2 separate regions of the Homo sapiens genome follow, and region 1 is linked to region 2. The links come from fine-mapping of genetic effects on gene expression. Tissue or cell type: skeletal muscle. Region 2 holds a variant in brackets; the other region holds the start of a gene. All regions are shown on one strand. Distances are from middle to middle.

Region 1 (5,294 bases), 37 kb after region 2:
GGGGCATGGTGGCGCATGCCTGTAATCCCAGCTACTCTGGAGGCTGAGGCAGGAGAACCGCTTGAACCCGGGAAGTGCAGGTTGCGGTGAGCGGAGATTGTGCCATTGCATTCCAGCCTGGGCAACAAGACCGAAACTCCATAAAACAAACAAACAAACAAACAAAACTGCAAAATAACAGACTCATGTAAATAAATGAATGTTTTAATTTTTGATGATTTAAAAAATGTTTTCCAGTGAAAACTCTCAGGGATGATCACACCTATCTGTGGACTGTTCAAATATTTACTCTCTAATGTTTTAAAATTACTTGAAAATATAACCTCATAACTTCAGCCAAACAAAAATCCTTTACCTGTAATAAATGGTCAGCTACCGTTGAAAAAGTAGAAATATTCTATTGAGACAATTTTGAGTCAATCTACTTTGTACTTGACAGTTTAAACCCAAATTTAACATGAGTGAAGTCAAACCAATCAACAGTAACGTAACAACTTGAAGGGAGGCCTTGCTGTTTCATTACTCTTGCACATAGTAGGGAGCAAAGCTCAAACAGTTAAAAAATAAAATCTGATTCATTCTATTAAATCAATGGCAAAAATACACTCAAAAGGTCGACTTAAGAAACATGTTTAACAAATATTAGTAAATCCTGTTCCTAATTACCAGGGGAAATTTCAGAAGAGTGTGATGGCCTCTATGACGCTTAATTCTAACACTCAACACTCAATTCACTAATTCACTGGTCAGTACAGATAAATAACAAATAATTTTTCTTTCAACTTGATAGATATCAACCGTTTCTATTGGGTTGAATCTACCATGATATAGTGCAGATTTGGGTCTGTAAAATCTTGCACGGGCTCCATTATCTTCCTAAACTATTCCAGGGGTGCTGTATTCCACCGGCTCTGGGTTAGAACGTTCCCAACCGCAGTGATTTGTGACTTCAAAGAACACCCTCGAGAAGGGGTTCCAAAGGTTTTCAGGCTTTAGGGGAGCAACGCGGAATAACCAAATTCTGCATGGATCGGAGTGACGACCCCGATAAGCTAGTTTTTAGAAGCAGGAAGACTCCCCTCTGGGGCAGCCAAGTAGGTAGCACTAGGCTGGGGGGCAAAGAGGCAGGTACCGTTTCCTTCCTGGGGCCCGCAGGTGCAGTCGGCCCCCAGCTCCGCCGACACCTCCACCGCCCTCTGCAGCAGGTAGCGCGCTCGCTTGCGCGTCAGGGCGTCCGCCTGGCCCAGCCCCGCCTGCACCGTCCTCCAGAAGCGCCAGCAGCGCCGGGCGTCCGGGCCCGCCTCGCGCGCGCCGCGGGCGCGGTCGCCGCCGGGCTCGGGCAACAGCTTCTCGGCCAGGGCGCTCAGGACCAGCAGCTTCTCCTCTACGCGGCCGGACCCCAGGGACGCCCCAGGCGCGGCCAGCCCGCCCCACACGGCCCGCAGCGCCGCCCCGCCACATTGGACCAGCACTGGCAGCAGTCGCCCGGCCACCAGCGCCGCCGCGTCCTCGGCAGGCCCGGCCTCATCCCCGTCCCCGCCCCCGCCCAGCGCCAGGGCGACGGCGGTCCCCGCCACGCGCTCCAGTAGCGGCCCGTCCTCGCGGGGCCGCAAACATGGCCCGACGGCTGCTAGCACTTCCACGGCAGCCTCGGCGCCAGGCGCGCGCCACCCGGCGAGCAGATCGCGCAGCGCCTCCTCAGCCAGCGCGGCCGCCAGCTGCGGACGCCCGGCCAGGCGGACGCACGAGCGCAGGGCCGCGCCCGCCGCCCTCAGCACGCGCCGGCGGTGGCGAGGCTGCAGACTGGGGTCCGGGCCGCCCGCGGGGCGTCCGCGCAGGCTCCGCAGCAGTGGCACGAGGTACCCTGCAGCCACCTCGCGCGCCGCCTCCGGGAGCGCGCCTGCGCCCCCGCTGCCGCGCGCCTCCTCGTCCTCGAGCCGCTGCAGAAGGAAGCGCAGCGTCTCCACGCGCTCCGCGGATGCCTCCCCTTGGCACAGCGCCCCAAGCAGGGCCCGGGGGTCCCGGCTCTGCGAGAGCAGCGCTTCCGCGAGCACCCACTCCATTTGCCGAGCGCCCGCGCCACCGGCCCGGGCTCCCAAAGGAAGGCGCCGGCGTGTGCGATGCGTGCGCACAGGACCGGCCGGCCCCTACGTGCGCGTGCGCCGACGGAGCCGGGCGCGCGGCCGCAGAGAGGGGGATCCCAGCCCGGCTTGGTGCAGCTCAGCTTCCCTTGGGTTCCTGCCACCAACCCTGCCTAGATAGAACCCACCTGGTCTCTTATTTTTAGGAGAAACGAGGCCTTCGTTAAAAGTTAATGTAGTATCTACACCAGCTTCATCGATTCCTGATTGGAGGTTGGTCTGCCCAGGACCCTAAATCAGGCGTGCCTGTGAGCATAAACCAGTTCACAGAAGGTGCACAGCAGAATCACTTTAGATTATTTTCCAAACGTTGCATGATGGGCACCATCCACAAAGAGACTGACACAGTAGGTCTGAAATTGGTTCTGGACATCTGCATTAAAAATAAGTCATGAAAACACAAGAATGATTTAGACGTAAGGCCAGGAGTGAGAAGTGTTACCGGTGGAGGGTGTCCAGGTCCAAGAATTGGACAAAGCGCACAAACAAAGCAAAGACAGAATGAAGCCACAAAAGCAGAGATTTATTGCAAAAGTACACTCCACAGGGTGGGGGCAGACCCAAGCAAGCCGCTCAAGGGGGGCTGGTTACAGAATTTTCTGGGGTTTAAATACCTATAGAGGTTTCAATTGGTTACTTGGTGTACACACTATGTAACTGAAGAGGATAAAATGAAGTTACAAAGTTATTTACTTGGTGTACTCCCTATGTAAATGAAGAGGATATTTCCTGTCATAGCTGAAGTGTTTCTATCTGATTTGGTTCTAGGGAGTTTTTGGATTCCCTGCCTCCAGGCCCTATTCTCCTGCCTTAGAGGTACCTATAGCAATGTGCTAGGATTCAGCTAAAACCAAGATGCCCACGCCAGCCCTCACAGCCAAGTGCCCAAGATGACTCCAGGATGCAGAGCCTCCTGCACAATGCATGTGCTCCCATGTGCAAACTCAAAAATAGTCCCTGTGTCTGTCTTTTCTGTATTTCTGACAGCATCCATTGCTAAATAGAGAAACAGAAAACCTCACCTCGGCATGCATGGTGTGGATTTGGTTCCTGGCTCAATTTGAGACAAACTAGATCAGTGACATAGGGTTTTCTTCGCTACTAAACACAAAGATCTGCCTCTTAGTCAATAGAGAAAACAGGGTCCCAACTTCAAAGAGCTTGACATATAATAACATAATGGATAAGACAAAAATTAGTTATTTAAATTTACAGTTATTTTTATATAAAGTTATCTGACTTTAAGGTTATCTGACATTACACAGGCAAGACTTTTTTCATATTTCAGTCATTCCGTTTTTCATTGACAAAATGCATAAATGTTTCTATTTTAAGCCCTTTTAACATGTCAGTAAATATCAATTACCTTCAACATAAAATGTGCAGAAAACTATTGTTTCTGTCAACATATATCTAACAAATATAAATGGGTAAATGTCTTGAGCACTTAACAAACGAAGATACACAAATGATAAGCACTTGGAAAAGTGTTCAACATCATTAGTCATCAGAGAAATGCAAATTAAACCCACAATGAGGTACCACTTCATACTGATGAGAATGGCTAACATGTAAAAGCTCGAAAACACTAAACGGCAAAGACCAAGGGTGTGGAGCAACTGGAATTCTCATACATTACTGGTGGGCATGAAAACGGTACAGTCACTTTAGAAACTGTTTCTCGTAAAGTTATAATATAGCTGCTTTATGATTCAGCGATTTCACCCCCAGGTAATTACCTAAAATAAATGAAAACATGTTTCAAAAAAAAAAGCTTGCAGAAGAATGTTTTTGACAACATTATTCGTTATAGCCAAAAGCTTATAACAACCTAGTAGGTGTTAGGTAACAACCTACATGTGCATCAAATTGAAGAATGAATAAAAAATTGTGATCTATCTATATAATAATGCTCCCAGCAATAAGACAATGAATTGCTAATCCGCTTTACATGGATAAGTCTCAGAAACAATATGTTAAACAAAGGAAGCCAGTCACAACGTTTACATCCTCGTGATTTCATTTATATGAAATCCAAGAAGAGACAAAAGTAATCTGAAGGATAGAAATGAGAACAGTAGTTGCATATAGGGAGTAGAGATTTGACTAGAATTGGGCACAAGGGAACTTTCTGGGGTGATGAAAATATTTTATGTTGATCAGGGTGTTGTTACACATTTGTCAAGACTCCTTGAACTGAACCCTTAAGATCTATGCATTTCGCTCTGCAGAAAGTTTACCTCAATCAGCCGGGCGCAGTGGCTCACACCTGTAATCCCAGCACTTTGGGAGGCCGAGGCCGGTGGATCATGAGGTCAGGAGATTGAGACCATCCTGGCCAACATGGTGAAACCCCATCTCTACTGAAATACAAAAAAATTAGCTGGGCATGGTGGTGCACGCCTGTAATCCCAGCTACTCGGGAGGCTGAGGCAGGAGAATTGCTTGAACCCAGGAGGCAGAGGTTGCAGTGAGCCAAGATCACACCACTGCACTCCAGCCTGGAGACAGAGTGAGACTTGGTCTCAAAAAAAAAAAAAAGAAAGTTTACCTCAATCTTGAAAAATGACTTATACCAAAAAACAAAACAAAACAAAACAAAACAAAAAAACAAGTTGGCCTATGTGTTTTATTCTCTGTTGCCTTCAGAGTAAAGCCTAACTGCAGAGCACAGCATTGAAGGCTTATTGGGATTGGGGAAAAGCCAGCTGGCCTCACAGCCTGACTCCCCCTTCTCTGCCCCAGGTCAGGCATGTGGAACTCTCCTTCTTACCCACAACATGTTTGCACTGTCTTCTCTCCCGGAATATTTCCCGCAACACCACTTTTCTGATTCACCAATGTGGGCAGCGATTCCTAATTGCCAGAGCTGCCCTTTTTCGTTCTTACCTGAATGGACTCTGTGGAGTATTTCCTATTTCTTGAAACACTATCTCACTCTGGTTTTCATCGATGACTTTGTCCTGTTCTTTCTTTTCTCTGCTTCCTCAGCTGTTTCTTCTCCCTTTCTTTCAGCATCTTATTTTTCCTCCTGACCTGTCCATAGTGATATTTCCAGGGTTTTATCTTCAGGTCTCTCTTCTCCTCACTCTGTAAATTTTCTCTGAATAACTTCATTAACACTATAGATCTGATTACCATTTACATGCTAAT
Region 2 (5,294 bases):
TCATATGATATATGCTCTGCGACCACAATGTAATTAAATTAGAAAGCAGTAACTAGGAAAGTCTCCAAAGATGTTCTAAATAATTCATGGGTCAAAGAGAAAGCTTCAAGGAAAGTTAGAAAATATTTTGAGATGAAAATGCAACATGCCAAAATTTGTGGGATATAGTTAAAGCAACACTTGGAGGAAAATTAATAGCACTGTCATTTCAGAAAACAAGAAACGTCTAAAATCAACAATCTATGTTTCTGCCTTAACACTAAAAGGAAAAAAAGGCAAAATAAACCAAACCCAAGCAGAAAGAACCAAACAACAGAAATCAATGAAATTGACCAAAAAAAAAAATCTATAAAAAAAAAATCAATGAAACCAAAAGCTGGTTCTTTGAAAAGGTCAATAAAATGATAAACCACTAGCAAGCCAGAGACAGAGACAGAGAGAGAGTGCACATGAGTAAGCACGCACACACACACACACAAATTATCACTATTAGGAATAAAAAGACAGAGCTTACACTACAGACCCGACAGGCATTAAAAGGGTAAGGGAATACTACAGACAATTCTACTGCCCCTATTCACAGATGACATGATTATCTACAAAGAAAATCCCAAGGAACCTTCAAACAAACCAACTCCTAGAATTACGTCCTTCAGCAAGGTTACAGGATACAAGGTCAGCATACCAAAATCAATCATATTTCTATATACTAGTAACACACAGTTAAAAATTGAAATTTTAAAACTATCATTTACAACAGCTTCCCCTCAAAAGAAATAGTTATAAATCTTACAAAACCTGTGTAAGATCTATACGCTGAAAACTGTAAAACTGATGAAAAAAATCACAGACAACCTAAGTAAATGCAGAGACAGGCCAGGCGTGGTGGCTCATACCTGTAATCCCAGCACTCTGGGAGGCTTAGGTGGGCAGATCGCCTGAGGTCAGGAGTTTGAGACCAGCCTGGACAACACGGCAAAACCCCATCTCTACTAAAAATACAAAGATTAACCAGGCATGGTGGTGAGCACCTGCAGTCCCAGCTACTTGGGGGGCTGAGGCAGCAGGATTGCTTGAACATGGGAGGTAGAGGCTGCAGTGAGCTGAGATTGCACCACTGTACTCCAGCCTGGGTGACAAAGTAAGATCCTGTCTCTAAATAAATAAATGTAAGGAAATACCATATTCATGCATTAAAAGTTTCAGCATAAGAAAGCAATTCTCCACAAACTGATCTATGCATTTAATGCAATTCCAGTCAAGATCCCAGCAGGACTTTTTTTTTGTAGGTACATATAAGTTGATGATATAATTTATATGGAAAGGTAAAGGAACTAGAATAGCTAAAAATATTTTTGGACAAAAACCACACTACCTATTTTAAGACTTATTATAAAACTACAGTAACCAAAACCTTGTGGTATTGGCAAAGGAATAAACACTTAGATCAAAAGAACAGAATAGAGTCCAGAATTACATCAACACAAATACAGCCAAATTAATTATTTGTCAACAATTTTTTGGGATAGAATTCACAGAGCATTCAATTCCCCCATTAAAGGTATCTAATTCAATAGTTTCTCGTACAGTCACAGATATGTGCAACTATCACCACAATCAATATTAGAACATTTCATCACCTCAAAGAGAAACCTCATACCCTTTAAATCATCGGGCCCTTAACCCCTATTTTCTCCCTGCCCTAAGCAACCCCAATCTATTTTCTGTCTCTAGAGATTTGCCTATTCCGGACATTTCATTTAAATGAGATCATATAATATGTGGTCTTTAGTGATCACCTTTCCCTTAAGATAATGTTTTCAAGGTTTATCCACGTTGTAACATGTATTACTACTTCATTCCTTTTTATGGCTGAGTATGTATAAACCACATATTATCCATTCATCTACCCATCTACTTTGGATTGTTTCCATCACAGCCAATTAATTTTTGACAAAAGTACAAAACAATTCAACAGAGAAAGGATACTCAGTCTCTCCAACAAATGGTGCTGGTGCAACTACACCAGCAAAGG[CA/C]AAAAAAACTAACCTTGACCTAAACCTTACACCTTAGAAATTAACCCTAAAAATATCATAAGTCTAAAAGTAAAATAATAAACGAAGGAGAAAAATCCTGTACGACCTGGGGCTAAGGCAGAGTTCTCAGTCGTAATACCTACTGCACGATCCATAAAACAAAACAAAAATAAACTGGATTTCATCAGAATAAAAACTTTGGCTCTGCAAAAGACACTGTTGAGAAAATGAAAAGATAAGCTGCAGACAAAAAGAAAATATGTGCAAACCACATATCTGACAAAGGACTAACTTGGCAGAAGATTTAATAGACACTTCATAAAATGCTGTATCTATCACTCTGAGAAGTGTTCATTAAGAGATTACATACATTAAAAATTAATTTTAAATTTTCATGTTACCCAGGGGCTATATTATATAGCCTCTGGAGTATCTCATGAGTCACTTGCCAGGTCAAGAAGCCACCAGCAAATGATTGGAAAGTAAAAGCCTTTATTAAAAAATTAAAAACTATAACCAATGAATATGGGAAAAACAGAATACTCTTGTCTTGCATATTCCATACTACTCTTTCTGCCTTTTCTTTCTCCTATATATATAGTCAACTCCTTAAATATCAAACTTACATTAATAGCATAAAATAGATTTACTTTCCTCATATATAATCAAACCCATTCAATTAAAATAAATTTGAGATTTCAAGGGAAAGCTTAGGCCTTGGAGAAGAGAGAACAAAAAGACTTGAAGAAAAGTAGCTGCCTTCAAGGTATCCAATATTATCATCCCTACCCCAGTGGCTCCTCTTAATTACCGCAATACAGAACAGCCTCTATCTCACCCTCAAGGCACATTCCCTGGTCACTGCCACATCTCTGAATTTAACACCCTGTCACAATATACAAACTGTGGGCAAAAGTTCAAGCCAGAATAAAAATTATGGTTTGGGGCTGGGCACAATGGCTCATGCCTGTAATCCTAGCACTTTGGGAGGTCGAGGCAGGCGGATCAGCTAAGGTTGGGAGTTTGAGACCAGCCTGACCAACATGCAGAAACCCTGTTTCTAATAAAAATACAAAATTAGCCAGGCATGGTGGTGCATGCCTGTAATCTCAGCTACTCGGGAGGCTGAGGCAGGACAATCACTTGAACCCGGGAGGCAAAGGTTGCGGTGAGCCAAGATCGCACCATTGCACTCCAGCCTGGGAAACAAGAGCGAAACTCCGTCTCAAAAAAAAAAAAAAAAAATTATGGTTTGGTTTCCTAGTCTATGCCTCATATAATGTATAGTAGTAAACTGAATCCCAACAGAAGTGGTACCAGAATTAGTCAAAAAGCAATCACAGTCAAAATCATGATGAAGTAGCACTTTATACCCATTAGGATGGCTATTATTTTTAAAAGCCCATTAACGAGTGTTGGAGAGGATGTGGAAAAACTGGAACCCTTGTGCACTACTGGTGAAAATGTAAAAAGGTACAGCCACTGTGGAAAAGTGTATGGCAGTTCCTCAAAAAATTAAACAGAATTACCATATGATGCAGAAATTCCACTTCCAAGAGAATTGAAAGCAGGGACTCAGACATTTGTACACCCATGTTCACAGCAGCATTATTCACAAAAGAGAAGGTGAAAAAAATCCAATTGTTCATCAACAGATGAATGGATAACCAATTATAATCTAGCCAAACAACAGAATATTATTTGGCCTTTAAAAGGAATCAAAGCATGATACATGCTACAACATGGATGGACCCAGAAGACATGGTGTTCAGTGAAATAAAAATAAGTCAGACACAAAAGGACAAATGCTGTATGATTCCACTTCTAGGAGGTACCCAGAGGAGTCAAACTCATAGAGACAGAAAGTAGAATGGTGATTGCCAGGGCCTGGGGAAAGAGGAAAATGGGGAATTAGTGTTTCACAGGTACAGAGTTCCAGTTCAGGAAGAGGAAAATTGGAGATGGATGATGGTGATGGCTGCACAACAGTGTGAACGTACTTTCTATGTCACAGAACTGTACACTTAAATATAGTGAAAATGTAAATTTTACTTTATGTATAAAACTATCTATGCATAAAACTAACTATGTATAAAAACCTACGTCAGGAAGAAAAGTTCCAATAGACAAGAGATTACTCCCACAAAAAAAGCGAGACTCAGCAAAGACCAGACCCACCAAAGTGACAAATTCAGCCAGTAGTGAGGACAGAAGCAGTATACTGAAGGCTCATATAACCCAGTGTAATGAAAGGGAAGCTATATTGTAACTAAAAGTATGTTTCCTCAAATTTAAAAGTAAACATTATACAGTTATTGCAGATTAAACATATAATCATGGAAACATCATTTTAGAAAAACTGTATCTGCAGAATGACAATCCCTGAATCTCATCTGATTAGGCACAGTAAAGTGGTATTGCACATCACAGGCTGGAGGAAAACACAGCCGTCTGGACTACCATCACTGTGAATTCACGATCGCAACCTCAAGGGCGTGCTCAGCAAGCCCAGCAATCCTACAGCACTGCCTCAGAGCACTCACAAAGCCTCTTTCCCAGACAGATGCTTATACCCTGTCCTCACACTGCCAACACTTCCATCCCCACCCTCACTCTATCTCCTCTTTCCTTAAAAAAAAAACAGAATAAATTAGAAAAGAACTTCTACGACCTCCTATATCCACCCACCTACCTGCACCTACCTCTCTCTATCAGTGCTCCTTCTAGAACCTTCTAGAACCACTTGTGCCCTGGATTCCATACACTCTCACCTATGCTTGGATGCCAGTCAGCAAACACCACCCCTTTATGTCTTCAAACCTTCCCTCAATGAAATCATTTCCATCAGCACATAAACATGGTTATATTCACCTCTTAAGGAAACAAAAACAACTTCTCGTTCCTCACCACCAACGGCCCCATTTCTCTGCTGCTCTACATAAAAAACTTGCTATTTTACTCACTATTTTCATTTCTCTCCGAGTGGCCCCCACTACTGCCCCAAATTGCTTCCGTTGAGGTCGCCGCTGATTTCCATGTTGCTAAATTGGATGGTCAATTCCCAGTCCTTCTGTTAGGGCATCAACAGCCTCTGGTGTGGGATCCCACCCTCCTCCCGGAAACACGTTCTTCGCTGGCTTCCTGGTTTTCCTCTTCTCTGGCTATAAATTCCCCTAGGTACCCTCTGCTGTTCCTCTTCACCTCACTAACCTCTGGACATTGAAGTCCCCAAGGTACTTGGACCCCTTCTCTGTCTAC

Evidence for each region. PIP is the estimated chance that this variant, and not a neighbour inherited with it, causes the effect.
Region 1: TARBP1 starts here. The variant in region 2 is fine-mapped to the expression of TARBP1 in skeletal muscle (GTEx, PIP above 0.99).

Annotation. Positions count from the first base shown.
Region 1 is chr1:234,477,041-234,482,334 of GRCh38, forward strand. TARBP1 (tRNA guanosine 2 -O-methyltransferase TARBP1) reads right to left here and starts at 2,139. Exons shown (of 30, transcript NM_005646.4): 1 at 1,133-2,139. The coding sequence starts at 2,063. RefSeq lists silencers at 1,236-2,035, 2,066-2,255.
Region 2 is chr1:234,440,028-234,445,321 of GRCh38, forward strand. The region is part of intron 12 of TARBP1 (tRNA guanosine 2 -O-methyltransferase TARBP1); the gene reads right to left. Among named protein-coding and RNA genes, the nearest start is that of TARBP1, 37 kb to the right of the region's middle. The variant CA/C (reference allele first, on the strand shown) is at 2,036.